Linked DNA regions of Homo sapiens. The protein of the gene in region 1 purifies or fractionates together with the protein of each later gene. This does not show direct contact. Each region holds a gene or a part of one and is shown in the gene's direction. Other genes may lie near its edges.

Region 1 (7,785 bases):
ATGCCTCCTTTATAATTTTGCAAAGCCTTCTTGATTTTGTGCCTTAAAAATGAAATATTTCATAACAAAACCTAATTAATGTTTGAATTATGACCTGACCTAGGTACAAAACTATGGTAGGCAGAATAATGCCCTCCTGCAAAGAAGTCCATGTCCTAATCCTTAGCCCCTGTGAATATGTTATCTTATGTGGAAAAGAGACTTTGCAGATGTGATCAAGTTGAGGATGTTGAGATGGGGAGATTATCTTGGGTCATCTAGTTGGTCTTAATGTCATCACAAAGGTCTTTATAAGTGAAAGTGGGACAGAGTCAGGAGGACATGTGCTGCTGGTTTTGAAGGTGTAGAAAGGGGCTATAAGTGGAGAAATGCAGAGAGCCTCTAGAAAAGGCTAGAAAATGCAAGGGAACAAATTCTCCCCAAGAGACTCCAGTAAGGAATAGTTTATTTTACCCTGGTACCATGACAGGCTTCTAACCTACAGAACTTTATAACAAAAAATGTGCACTGTTGTAAGCAGCCAAGTGTGGTTATTTGTTACAGTACCCACAGAAAACTTATAAAACAGCAAATGCAGTGCCTCAAGCACTTTATGGGAAGACCTAAGTGGGACACCCAACATAAACTGGGGAGCTCAGGGAACGTTTCCCTATACACAGGAAATAAATGGAGAAGGAGTTTCCAGGTCAAAGAGGAGGAGAAAGAACATTCTAGTCTAGGAGTTGGGGGTGGGGGTGAGACAAGAGCAACAAAAGGAATAAGGTAAGAAACGAGAGTTGGTTTGGAACACTACAAATCATCCAGCCTTGTTGAAAAACAATGTGGCAAGAGATGAAGCAGGAGGGGTGGATGGGGGAGAGCAAAGCAACTTCTCTCCCTGGAGAAGTGTTTAGGCTTTTAATAAGAGCTCATGGGGAGACAATGAAATGTTTTAAAGAATGGTGTGTGTTTGTGTGTGTGTATGCGCACGTGTTAGAGGCTGGAAATGACAGTAAAATTTGCATTTAAAATTGCACTAAATATATGTATGTGTGTATAGACACACACATGTATTTTAAATGCAAATTTAAAATAATATTAAAATAAAATAATTTTAATACATTTTAAATGCAAATTTTAAATAAAATAAAATTGCACTAAGTACACGCACACGTGTGTGCGCGCACACACACACACAACTTTCCCTTTCAGCAAATAATCCCTGAACAGAAATAAACAAGAGCGATTTCAAATATGAGCCTGGGTCCAAATGCCACAAGCCACAGGCTCTGAATGTCACAAGGCAGGGTGTTAGATTTACAATTAGACCCTCTTTGAACGTGGGTGACAATTCACAGTGTTCTTCAGGAGAGGAGACTGCATCTGCTGCTTTCTTCTGCACCCTCAATCCCTCCTCTTTTTAGTGGAGTGAGTAGGAGAACGGATTTATTCAACGAGGGCACTCTGGGTGGTTTGGGGATGCTTTAGTCCCCGGGACCTAATCTCTATCAGACCCAACCAAAGCCATTCCGAAAATTATGTAATAGCAATACTTTTTCTTAATGTGGATAATCTTAAAAGTGTAAAGATATACAGCTCTAGGAAAATTTTAAATGGTTTGTACATATGCTGTCATAAAAATAATAATCAAAGGCAGTAGCTGTAAGAGAAATCCATAAACATCAATCCCTGCCTCATCCCTAATCCCCCAATATCCAACCTCTGAGAAACACCACTGGAGTTTTAAATTAATAATAGTTTATAGATTCTCCTGAGCTTCCCTGTGGAGGTTGCTAATATATTGTAACTCCACACTCTCATGAATCCTGAGTTTACTCTGCTCCCCTCCACAAAAGTTTTATTAAAGTTACTGAGAAAATAGTCTATTTGCAGAACTATGAAATAAAACTATGATTTCATTCTAATTAGAATGACCACTTTCACTTAAAGTCTCTCCTCTCCCGCCCAGAAACGTACACAAGAATCTCAGCTTCATCTCTGACCTTGTCGCTTTCTTCTGGGATATTGTCTTAGTTCCAGGGGCTATAACAAAATAACATAGACTGGTATTAACTGGCTTCAACCACAGTTATTTATTTCTCACAGTTCTGGAGGTTGGGCAGTCCAAGATCAAGGCACCCAGAGATGTGGTGTCTGTGGAGGCCTGCTTCCTGGTTTGCAGATGGCTGCTTTCTTGCTGTGTTATCACATGACAGATATCTCTTCTCTCTCTCTCCCTCTCTTTATTTGAGACAGAGTCTCACTCTGTTACCCAGGCTGGAGGGCAGTGGTACACTGTCAGCTCACTACAGCCTCTACCTCCCAGGCTGAAGTGATCCTTTCGCCTCAGCCTCCTGAGTAGCTGGGACTACAGGAGTGCACCACCATGCTCAGCTAATTTTTGTATATTTTGTAGAGATGAGGTTTTGCCATATTGCCCAGGCTGGTTTCAAACTCCTGGGCTCAAGCGATTCACCTGCCTTGGCCTCCCAAAGAGATGGAACTATAGGCATGAGTCACTATTCCCAGCCTTTTGTCTCTTCTTAGAAGGGCACTAAAACCCACTCATGAGGGCTCTACCTTCATGACCTAATTACTTCCCGAAGACCCCACTTTCACCACCACGTTGGGGATTAGGATTTCATTATATAAACTTTTAGGGGGGAACACAAATCATTCAGTCCATAGCAGATATGGTGAGTCTTAGGTATGAAATGTTTTCCTTTAACTCTTACTTTTCTAACTTTGTTAAAAATAGTTGAAAGATAGAAAATGAGTTAGCTCTGCAGTTCTGGAGTACTCACTGGTACTTCACCGCATCCTGTGTTTACCCAGCTCAACCCAAGCTAATGGAGAAGTAGATTTCCTTCTCCAGGAAGGGTCAAGGCCAGGAAGAGAGGTGGACAGGTCTCAGAAAGCAGGCAGTGTCAAATGCTGAGCAAAAGCCAAGCTCAGAAGGAGGAAATGTGGTGTTTATGGAACCAACTTGCAAATGCAAACATGAGCAAACCAAAGCAATGTAACAAATGATCCTCAACAGCTGGGTTTCTTCAATGCTGAAACTTGTAATAAACATCCATGGCTATCTTTGGAACACGATTTGTCTGTAAACATACATACATCTATTTACTAGAACCACAAGGATTAGTTAACAAAAAAATTACCTAAGAACCATCAACTTTCACTTCTCCAATTGGGTCACAATCTACAAGTTAATCTGCTAGGAAAAAAAAAAAATAACATTCCTCTCTAACTGTGGTGGGAATCAGTAATCATAGGATTCCCAGGAAGATTCTGAAAAGCCCTTGGATATTGAAGGATTTGGGTTGCAGTTTTCTCAATCTGTTAGATGTTGAGGGGGGGCGGAGGAAATACACCTTTTTTTTTTCCCCACAATCCTAAAAGTTTATGAACTTTCAGAGAGACACAGGAGCCAACCTGAAAGAGTTCCCAGTGGTCAAAGCTGGAACCATTTGAGCAACAAAATTAATAATGTAGTATTGAATTCTAGCCCAAAGTATAAAATAAATATACATGGGTCCATACTGACATAACAAATACTGACATAAATGATTGAATAAACAAGAGAGATGGAACAAATCTTCCTTACAGAATCATTCTAAATAATAACATATAGATACTCCCTGCTCTGGGATGGAGTTTAATCTTGCCCTCATCTTGAGTGTCAGCTGAATTGAGTCATGCCATTCATGCCATTCAGAGTAGAGTGTATGGAAAGAGAAAAACAGCTTTGCAGTAGAGAAACCTGGCAGACACAACCTTAACTATGGGATCAAGGTCAAGTCACCAGTGATAAGTCACCTGGCCATCGTGCCATCGTCCCTGAGAGGATGCAGTGGGGAAGGCACTTCATCTCTGAGTCTTTCCTCCCCCCAGTCTCATCATGAGAAAAAAACAGTAGACAATACCCACATGAGTGGGTGTCGAGGTACCCCCACAAAACTATACCTTACCAGAATACTTCATCACAATACTTTACTAGAATTCTTTACAGCTGTCAAAGTCAAGAAAAGACAGAGAAACTGTCATGGATTAGAGGAGACAAAGGGCACAGGATGCTAAATGCAGTGTGGTATCCTGGCTGGGATCCTGAAAGGGAAAGGCGTTAGCCAAAAAGCTAGTGACAGCTACATCAAGTCTGGAGTAGTGTTAATAGTGGCAGATCAATGTTAATGTCTTTTAAAAAATATTTTTAGTAGAAATGAGGTCTCGCTATGTTGCCCAGGCTGGTCTCGAACTCCTGAGCTCAAGCGATCCTCCCGCCTGCCTTGGCCTCTCAAAATGCTGAGATTACCAAGGCGTGAGCCACCGCACCTGGCCCAATGTGAATTTCTTAGTTTTGACAAATGTGCCACAGTTATGGAAGCTGTAGGCATTAGGAGACACCGACTGAGGGGTATATAGACGACTCTCTCTACTATCTTTGCAACTTTTTTTAAGTTCCAAAAGAAAGTTTTTTAAAAAAACAACAAAATTGCACTTGTACTCCATAAATTTATACTAAAAACAATAAAATCAAAAATTATTTAAAAAACAAAAACAAAAGTTTATAAACTTAGGGTGCAAATAGAACCTTCTTGAAAAGCAGCGGCCGATCCCCTCCCCCCACCCGCCTGTACAGCACCCTAGCGAGGGGCGTGAGGGGCAGAGCCTGGCTCTCCAGCGCTGGGCGTACGCGTCCTGCCGCGACTCCTCCCCGGGGCCTCACCGGCGCCGGACTCTGCCCTGGGCGCGCCCCGCGGGGCGGAGCCAAGCCTGCGGGCGGTGGCGGCTGCACTCGCAGGGCCCTGGCAGCCGACCCTGGCCCCAAGGTCCGATCGCCCAGGGGAGGAGCAGCACCGGGACCCCGCGTCGGCTGGGCGCCCCACAAGGTAGGCGAGTCTGGCCACCTTCGGGCCCGGTCCCTGCGGCGCGCCCCCGCATCCCCTCCATGTGTGTGGGTGTCCAGGTGCCTTTCCAGCGGCTTCCCCAGTGGAGTTCCTGGCATCAAGGACATTTCCTGTAAAAGGGTCCTTGTTGAAGAGGTAATCCTCCCTGGAAACCTCGGTTCTGGGCTCGAATTTCCTGGGCGAGAAGTTTCTTCCCCATTGGGAAGAGCTGCTTTTCCGCAGAGAGGAACCCCTACTTAGTCCGGCGCACACCTGATTATTTATTTAGGTTGTTGTTATACAATCCGTTTGTCAGGGGTCCCCGCGATTTCTGCCTGCTAATTTCAGAGGCTATGGAGAAAAGTCCTGCGGTAAACGCCCTGACCTAGGAACTCCAGCGTGGTGGCTTTGACAGGTCACTGCGCTCGCATTTTTTAAAGAGCAGAGATGAATGAAGGTGGCTGTCTTCATTCATTTGTGCGGGCTTCTGCAGCCGCAGGTGTAGTAAAAAGAGCAGCCCATTGCTTGACCTTTTCCTTAATGTTGAGTAGCATCATGATATTTTAGATGTGGAAGTTACAGAGTGCTAGGCGGCTAGACAAAGGAACACTCTTATCTTACTGAAGGTTAGTACGGGACCGTGCAAGTGTAGTTTTTAGATTGGATGATAACATAGCTGTGAATTTTCAGCCTTTTTGGAAGTGAAGACAAAATTGAATATAAGGATCAGAACAAGCAACAAGCCCTGAACATAACTGAAGGTGTACCTGCTCCCCATTATATTCTGATTGTTTTATTTTAGGAATCAAAACCTCTTTTACTTTCTTGGTGTATATAGTTCGGATGAAGTGTCAGAATACAAAAAGGAATTATTCTGTGTTTGTGATAGGGAGGAGATAATCTGTTCTTTTGATTTTACCTAATGCCATTAAATATTCAGAGCTACTGAAGTCTGGTTTTCCTGATATGTGAGCTGGGCAGGAGTGTCAGGTACCCTGGCAGACACAATTGGTGCTGTTGTTATGCTTTTCCCCCGCTGCCCACTCTCTTCCCCACCCCACTCCCAATTTGAGAGGGAAGGCCCCTGACACAGAGGAATTTCTGCCCAAGGCAGGGAGTATCCCCGTGTGGTTCCTCAAATGTTTGCAGAAAGAATGAAAACAACTACACTTCTTGGGACCCAGGCCAACGTCATAAGGCCGACGTCATAAGAAGGTTCTTTCCTCTTGTTATTTACAAAATAAATTGATCCCTTGTCCTAACTAGAAAGAGACTTTTGAAATTAATACTGTTGCTATTTTGTGAATTACTGATAGGCATGTTATTTGTTAGCTTATTTGTTTACAGTATGCTCAACATTGAAGGTGAGTTGTAATCCAAATTTTGGCCAAAGCTAAAAAATGTAAGCTAGATTTAGACAAACCTGAAAAATGAGGTGTTTATTTGCTTGGAATAATGACTGAAAGGGGAAATAACTGAAGATTTTGATGGGAATGTAAAAGTCTTTTAAAATAGTAGTTTCTCATCTTTAGAACTGAGATATTTACATCAAAATTATATGGCTATTTATTGATTGAAAACATTTCATAATGGCAAAATTTTACCATGAATTTACTAACACGTTTAAATGAATGTCATTTACTAAGCACAAAAACAGCCATTTATATAGGTTTGGAAAATGAGAGAGAGAGAGAGAGAGAGAGAGAGAGAGTGTGTGTGTGTGTGTGTACATTGTTTTAGAAACTATTTGGTACATCTGTAAATTTGTGGGCCTATTCATGTATTCATTGAAACAATATTTATTGAGGACACTGTGTTCTGTGTGGGAGAACCAGATGGGAGGGGAAGTAGGGTCTGGGCCAAACACAGCCCTGTGTAAATCAGACACATTTCTATCCTCCTGGAATTTACTACATTGGAGTCCTCCAGGCCACCCCAAGTCAAGGCCATAGATTTACAGACCACATAAATGATCCATTCAATTTCGACAGTGACTAAAACTAGATTAGTTTCAAATCACATATTTCCTTTCACTGATTTAAAAAGTCAAGTCTAAAAATGATAGAGGAGCTTGCATGTTATTCTGCTCAGTGGTTTTCTCTTTTGTTTAGGTTGGGGAAGAACTTAGGAATCATGTGTTCCAGGCTTAATGTTATGAAATATTAACTTAAAATAGCTAAGTATCAATTTCATGCAAATTAAATAAAAACTAAACTTGTAGTATGGATGACAATAATCTAGAGACAAAAATTAATGAACAAAAAATTTAAAACTGAAAAACATCTATCCATTAAATTATATTTTTTCCTATAAATTAGAAAAATAAGACTACAGTTACATTCACCCCACCCCCAGAGGAAAACAGCATCTTTATTCAAGTTATTCTTACTTTTCCTTCTGTATTTTTTTTTAAAAAAGCTTTATTGGAGGTATAATTTACATACCATAAAATACATCCAAGTGTATAATTCAATGATTTTTGGTAAATTTACTGAATGGTGCAACCATTAGCACAATCCAATTTTAGATCACTTCATCATTCCCCAAATATCCCTGGGGCCTGTTTGCAATCACTCACCGTTCTTACCCCAGCCCCAGCAACCCCTAATCTATTTTGTCTGTTTAGATCTGCCTTTTCTGGACATTTCATACAGATGGAATCGTACAATATATAGTCTTTAGCATCTGGCTTTTTTCAGTTAGAATAGCTGTTGAGGTTTATTCAGGTTGTCACATGTAGCTGTAGTTGGTTCCTTTTTATTGCTTAACTAGGATTTATTCCATGCCATGGCTATGCCGCATTTTGTTCACCATTTGGTAGACCTTTCTGCAAATACTTTTGCATGGTAAAACAGATACATTGGTGCAGCTTCTATGGTAGCATAATGTGAGAATAACTGATATGAGCCAACCTCTT
Region 2 (7,337 bases), on another chromosome or scaffold:
GTTGCCACTGTTTTGACCCCCCACCAGCTGAACCTCTTTCCAAGGGTTTTAAAAGAATAGCACCTGTTTTGTTTGTTTGCTTCCCTTTTACTCCATTTATGAGTCAGATATTGAAGGATTAGGATATTCAAAAGCAATCACTTAGGCAGGGGAAAGTAGAAAGCTACTGCATATAACCAGGGAAAGACACAGGCTAAGAAAAGACCTGAGAAAACCTTAAGCTTTCACCCGAGGCTGATCCTGATCCCCAGCACAGAGACAATTACAAAAGCCCAGCAAACATGGGGGCAGGAGAATCTTATTTTCAGATTCACCACATTATGAGATTCAAATGTTCAATTTTCAACAACAACAAATCATAAGGATTTAAAGTGAAGCCAAATGTGGTGGCATGTGGTTGTAGTCCCACTTAATTGGTTGTTACTGGGCAACATAGTGAGACCCCATCTCTAGTTGAAAAATAAAATTTTTAAAAAAATCACAAGACATACAAATAAACAGGAAAGTATGGTCAATTCAGAAGAACAAAATAAATCAACTCAAACTATTCCCACAGAAGCCAAGATAGATGTCTGAGTTAATAGACAAAGGCTTTAAAACAACTATTTTGAAGTCGTTCGAAGAACTAACAGGGCTGGGCGTGGGGTGGCTCACGCCTGTAATCCCAGCGCTTTGGGAAGCCAAGGTGGGCAGATCACCTGAGGTCAGGAGTTCGAGACCAGCCTGGCCAACATGGTGAAACCCTGTCTCTACTAAATACAAAAATTAGCTGGGCATGGTGGCGTACGCCTGTAATCTCAGCTTTTCAGGAGGCTGAGGGAGGAGAATTGCTTGAACCTGGGAGGCGGAGTTTGCAGTGAGTTGAGTTCCTGCCACTGCTCTCCAGCCTGGGTGACAGAGTGAGACTCTATCTCCAAAAAAAAACAAACAAACAGAAAAAGGACTAAAGGAAGACATGAACAAAGTCAGGAAAACAATGTATGAATAAAATTAGACTATCATTAAAGAGAAATTATAAAAAGGAGCTGAGGCCAGGTGTGATGGCTCATGCCGGTAATCCCAGCACTTTGGGAGGCCAAGGCTCGTGGATCATGAGGTCAGGAGTTCGAGACCAGCCTGGCCAACATGGTGAAACCTCATCTCTACTAAAAATACAAGAACTAGCTGGGTGTGGTGGCATGCCTGTGTTCCCAGCTACTCAGGAGGGTAAGGCAGGAGAATCACTTGAACCCAGGAGGTGGAGGTTGCAGTGCACCCAGATTGCACCACTGCACTCCAGCCTGGGTGACAGAGCGAGACTCTTAGAAAAAAAAGGAGCTGAAATGAAATTCTAGACCTGAAAGATACAGTAACTGAAATGAAAAATTTACATAGAGGGGTTCAAAAACAGATTTGAATGAGCAGAAGAAAGAACCAGCAAATTTGAATATATTTCTTTGTAAAATACCCGCGGAACCCTGTTCCTTCGTTTTACCTCCTGCTTCCTTAGCTCAAGCCTTCCTCATCTTAGGCAGCCTCCAAACTATTCTATCAACCTCCCCTTTTCCCTGCTCTAGTTTTACTAGAGTGATCTTTAAAAAAACCCCAAATCTAATATTGTCACTGTCCTTTAAAATATCCAAGGGCACCCGTGTGTCTATAGAGTGAACTTCAGTTTCCTTATTTTAGCATTCAAGGACCTTCCTATTTTGGCTCCAGCCTACTACATTGCTTTATTTCACACCAGCCCCACATTCCATTCATATACTGTAACCACATTTTCTTGGGTACAAAGTCACTTACTGAAAAAAAGTTGAGCATATTTGGAAACCAAAATTCATTTTCTGTGAATGGGATATCAATATATAGCATTGGTAGGCATTGAAACAGACTATAGTCTATTTTTAAAATGGATTAGATGATAAAAACAACATGTATGTCATCACTAATCCAGTGGTCAATATTAGCATAACTCTGTAAGATACAATAAATGTTATATCTATTGTAGATACAATGTTATGTATCTAACATAATATCTAACATGTTAGATTCATAACGTTGTATGTAATATAATGAAACATGAAGTATAACCTGTCACTTGTGAGGTATACTAGTCTGATATGTTTGACTTGAATCCACTGAGTCTTCAAATATAACTTTCTTGTTCAAGAAATACAAGGCTTGCAGGAACAAGCTCAATGACTTCATGAGGAAGCAACCACTCAGATAAAAACATTTTGCACTTCAAGTGGCCTGATTTCTACAGTGAACAAGAATCTTTTAATTTTTTTTTAAGTGCCATAATTAAAAAGTCAAGGGATGTAACCAGATGGAATGTATGGTCCTGAATTGGATAATTTGGGTATACTGGTTGTAGAAAAATATAATTTGGTCAACAGAATATTTGATTGTAGTTAGGTATTATGTGAGAGGAAATTTTCCTGTAACATTACTGAGTTAAGAAAGCCAACTGTAAAAATAACTTTAGATGGATAGAAAATGTGAATGTGATCTAGGAATTAGGTGAGAAGAAAATGTACTGAAATAAGGTAGATATTTTTAATTGAAAAAGGAGATGACTAAAGTGATCTCATTTTGAAAAAAAAAATACACACACACAGAAGGATATACTCTAAAGTATTAACATTGGCCCTGGGAATGCCATGGTTTTTTTTTGTTTTTCATTAAAACATAGAGACACGGTCTCACTATGTTGCCCAGGCTGGTCTCGAACTCCTAGGCTCAAGCCATCCTCCCACCTCAGCCTCCCAAAGTGTTAAAATTACAGGCATGAGCCACCACACCTGGCCTTTTTTATTAAAAAAAATTTTTTTTAAATGCAATGTTTTCTTTTTTTGTTGTTGTTTTAGCTTGTGTCTATTCTCCAAAGCATGTTGTACTGATTGTGTAGTACAATTTTATTTAAAAATGTATGTTAAGATTTACATAAATATTTGGGGTGTCCATGAATCAAGAAATACATGAAAGTATGGGCACCAAAACGTTAAAAGTGGTTTTGTTGGGAGTTCAGGGGATTTTACTTTCTCCCTAATACTTTATTCTTTGAATATCTTGAAATGGATATTTTGTAACTGTATAAGGAGAAAGGAAGCGAAACTATTTTTCTGCAGGGGTACACCCACATCTATTGTATTAGACAAATCACAGAGGGATTGCAACAGAACACAGATTTTTCTCACTGTTTTTTCTCTGGTTGATCGGGATGCATTATCCACCAGAAAACACTGTAGACGACTCACTCACCAGGAAAAGAGCATATGCCAGTTGGAATAAATAAAGGGGAAGAGTAAGGAAGAGGCTGTAGAATTATTTTATAAATTATCAAGTCTTATGAGCCAGGTGCAGTGGTGCATGCCTATGTACAGTCCCAGCTACTCAGGAGGCTGAGGTGGTAGGATAGCTTGAGCCCAGGAGTTCGAGGGTGGAGTGTGATATGATCGTCTGTGAATAGCCACAGCACTGCATCCTGGACAAGATAGGGTCTCTTTAAAAATAAGACTTAACTAGCACTTTAATAATCATTGTTTTTGTTCCCAACTGCATTGTACATTCATTGAGGACAGGGACTTTAAACTTCATTATATTGCTGTTGCTGTGTTTCACCTTTGAATGATTTTTAAATAAAAATCTCATCTTTGAGTCACAATCTGATGTAACCTTGTCCATTTCTGTCCTCTTGTGTGCCTTAAATGCCTTTAGGCAGCTGTGTTGTACCAGTGGTTTTAGGACTTGGCAGTCGGAAGTTTTGACTTCTAGACTGGATTCTGTAACTAAAGCTAAATTACTTTATAAAAGGAGAAAAATGGTACCATTCTGACGGGTTTGTGGTGAAGCTGAAATGAGATAGCCACATAAAGAACCATCACAATCCCTGACACACCGTGCGCCCTCAGTAAATGCCAGGTGAATTTTATTACACTGTGAAGTACTGATTTTCAAACAGGACTTGCACATGAAAGGTGAGCAGGGGGATTCCTTGCTCAAGCACCAGTACTCTGGGGTTGTACCCTTTGTTAGGCTCAACAGGTACTACCCAGTCCGCTTCCATCGTCCCCAGTCCCGGCTGCAGTCACGTAGTTGGCTGTCCAACTCCAAATACACAAGACAGCCCAGGTCCAGCTCACAGCCAGTGCACTTCGCGCAGGCGCACAGTCCTGAGGCGGGCTGAAAGCCCAGGTGGGGCTCGGAGAAGAGGAAGCTCCGCCTCGCTTCCCGGTATTGGGCCAATAGGGTCGCTCGTCATGGTCGCAGACCTATGAGACGGGGCAGGGGGCGGGGCGGAGGGCGGAAGAAGTCGCTCTCACGTGAGTAAAGGGGTGGGGGGGCGGGGACAGGGCGGTTTGGGAGGCCCAGGCGGCGGAGCCTCCGGGACGGCGAGCGGCGGGCGGCGGAGGAGGAGACGGCAGGTCGGGTAGGGCCGTGTTTCCCCTCCTCCTCCTCCCACCCTCCTACCTACCAACCCCAGGGGTATTTTCCGACGGCCCCTGCGGGGAGCCAAGCTGTCTTCTCATCCCGCGGGGTCGGGCCAGTGGAGCTGCTCTCAGCTCCCTCGACGGGCCGAGTTCTGAGGGGAGCCGTGATTGGGGGGAGGGGGAACTGCGACGGAGGGGAGAGGGCGCATGCGCAGGCTGGGCCGCTCTGGGAGCCCCTGCCCAAACCGGTTCCCCCTGTCTGTGTGGGTGCCGGTCTTCTGAGTCTTGCGTTTTTGGCCCTCCCTCTGGTCCCCCAGCAAAGCCGGTTTGTGTCTTGACTTTAATGTTTTATGCTTGGTCCTATTTGGGAATCCAGCCGCTCCCCCCCGCCTCAGTTTCTCCCCATTGCTCACTAGGCCTGTATCTGTGACTTAAGCTAGCCTGGGCCTCAGGCTGTCCTGGGCTGCGCCTAAATTTCAAAGACTTGCTAGTTTTCACTGTCGCTTTGCCATCTCAGGTTGGTCTTTCAGTCTCATTTCCCCGTCTGCAATTAAAGCGTTCTTGGCATCCCAGTCTTCTCATCTCCTTGAAGCAGCTACCCCAGTACCTCATCGCTGTGTCTTTTGATTATCCGCACCCTTAGGGTTTTACGTGTTGAGCCAAAGGATAACCTCAAGACTTCCAGGAGTTCGCTGTCCATTGCCTGGTAGTACTTTGGTCTCTGCTCTTCTGCATCCAGACTGTTTATCATCTGCTCCTGCGTTTCACGCATCTGCATACCTTTGGTTACTCGAGAATTCTTTTTTGGAAACAAATGTCCTAGGAGACCGTGTTAAGTGATCATGCTGCTAGTGTTCCCGCTACTAGTGCTCCGTTAGTTTTAAATCATGTTCCAACTTGAATTTGAGGTCTTTTGACTTTCGTTGGCTTTTTGTCAGGGAAAAAAACCTGTTAGGGACAGGGTTTCACAATTCCTTTTATATTTCCATTCACATGTATTTACAAACGTGTGCCTGGAGTAGTAAGTACACAATAAGTGAGTTTCCAGCTGTTTTTGTTTCGGAAACAAAAAACAAAACAAAACAAAACAAAAAAACAACGGAAGGTGAATGGAATTGTGTTTGTAACATTAAACTGATGTTTGAAAAGTAGTTGGGAAAAAAAGCTTAGGTACTAAGGAGGGTTCATCCAACTTTTTTTTAAACGAAGGACGTGTTGCCTTAGTTCAAGTTTGTATAAGGTGCTATTTAATATGTATTGAAGACTTAACTAGAGCTTACTTATGAAAACTGAAAATAGGGGCCGGGTGCGTTCACGCCTGTGATCCAGCATTTTAGGAGGTTGAGGCGGGTGGATCACAAGGTCAGGAGTTCGAGACCAGCCTGTCCAATATGGTGAAACCAGGTCTCTACTGAAAATACAAAAATTAGACGGGCGTAGTGGCAGGCGCCTGTAGTCCCAGCTAATCGGGAGGCTGAGGCAACAGAATCGCTTGAACCCGGGAGGCAGAGGTTGCAGTGGGCCGATATTGTGCCATTGCACTCCAGTCTGAGCAACAGAGCGAGACTCCGTCTCAAAAAAAAAAAAAAAAAAACACAAAAAAACAAAATAGGGAAGAGAAGTCTTTATAAATCTTCCTGTGTAGAGTTCACTTTGTATTAATAAAATTTCAATCCATGATTGATTTTTATGTATTGGTAACATTTAAAATTCATATGTAATTTTAATTCAAGATATTAACTCAGATTCATAATTAAAGTTGAAATATTTGTGGCGTGAGGTGATTCATGCTTGTAATCCCAACACTTTGGGAGTCTGAGGTGGGAGGACTACTTGAGTTGAGAAGTTCAAGACTGCAGTAAGCTATGATGGGTGCCACTGCACTCTAGCCTGGGTAACACAGCCAGTTCCCATCAAAAAATAAAAAATAAAAAAACAACAAAAAATCTGAGATATAGTCATGTTGTGGTGCACTTTCTTTTTTTTTTTTTTTTTTTTTTTTTTTTTGAGACTGAGTTGTGCTCTTGTTGCCCAGGCTGGAGTGATCTTGGCTCACTGCAACCTCCGCCTCCTGGGTTCAAGGAACTGATTCTCCTGACTCAGCTTGGGATTACAGGCGTGTGCCACCACGCCTAGCTAATTTTTTGTATTTTTACTAGAGACGGGGTTTCATCATGTTGGCCAGGCTGGTCTTGAACTCCTGACCTCAGGTGATCCACCTGCCTCAGCCTCCCAAAGTGCAGGGATTACAGGCGTGAGCCACTGCGCCCGGCCACACTTTCTTTTAATTGAGTGTTATGATTCAGTTTACAGTTAACGCATTGACATTAATAGGTATATATTTGTTTGGAAAGTTAACCTATCAGCTATGTGCATTTTGGCATTTTTGGCATAGTATTTTGTTTGCAGTTTATAAGAGTTGTAGTAATGTAGTGGGAACAGAGACACCTGTTTCCTACCTTTTCTGCTGCATATTGAGAGAACTGTATTATGCACTTTATCTACATGAGGGGCATGGTTTTCCACACAATTTATTAACTGAACTTTGTAGCCCAGCTTCTTTTAAAGAAGTCTGTTGGCTGGGCGCGGTGGCTCACGCCTGTAATCCCAGCACTTTGGGAGGCCAAGGCAGGCGGATAACAAGGTCAGGAGATCGAGACCATCCTGGCTAACACTGTGAAACCCCGTCTCTACTAAAAATACAAAAAATTAGCCAGGCGTGGTGGCAGGTGCCTGTAGTCCCAGCTACTCGGGAGGCTGAGGCAGGAGAATGGCGTGAACCCGGGAGGCGGAGCTTGCAGTGAGCCAAGATCGCACCACTGCACTCCAGCCTGGGCGACAGAGTGAGACTCCGTCTCAAAAAAAAAAGAAGTTTTTGTTTTTTATTCAGTATATTTCCAGCTAAAGGAAAGCCTCCTTTGGAGG

Evidence for each region. Proteins that work in one complex are often made in the same cells at the same time.
Region 2: the proteins of CCDC68 (region 1) and RABGAP1 purify together in Homo sapiens (affinity purification with mass spectrometry; 4 studies listed by BioGRID and IntAct, with this or other methods). This does not show direct contact.

Annotation. Positions count from the first base shown.
Region 1 is NC_000018.10:54,956,422-54,964,206, reverse strand, and holds the start of CCDC68 (coiled-coil domain-containing protein 68), read left to right. Parts: upstream 1-4,745; 5' UTR 4,746-4,871; exon of another isoform or gene 4,872-5,024; intron 5,025-6,158; exon of another isoform or gene 6,159-6,232; intron 6,233-7,785. UniProt on the Homo sapiens protein: Centriolar protein required for centriole subdistal appendage assembly and microtubule anchoring in interphase cells. Together with CCDC120, cooperate with subdistal appendage components ODF2, NIN and CEP170 for hierarchical subdistal appendage assembly.
Region 2 is NC_000009.12:122,936,683-122,944,019, forward strand, and holds the start of RABGAP1 (rab GTPase-activating protein 1), read left to right. Parts: upstream 1-4,337; 5' UTR 4,338-4,411; intron 4,412-4,456; exon of another isoform or gene 4,457-4,566; intron 4,567-7,337. UniProt on the Homo sapiens protein: May act as a GTPase-activating protein of RAB6A. May play a role in microtubule nucleation by centrosome. May participate in a RAB6A-mediated pathway involved in the metaphase-anaphase transition.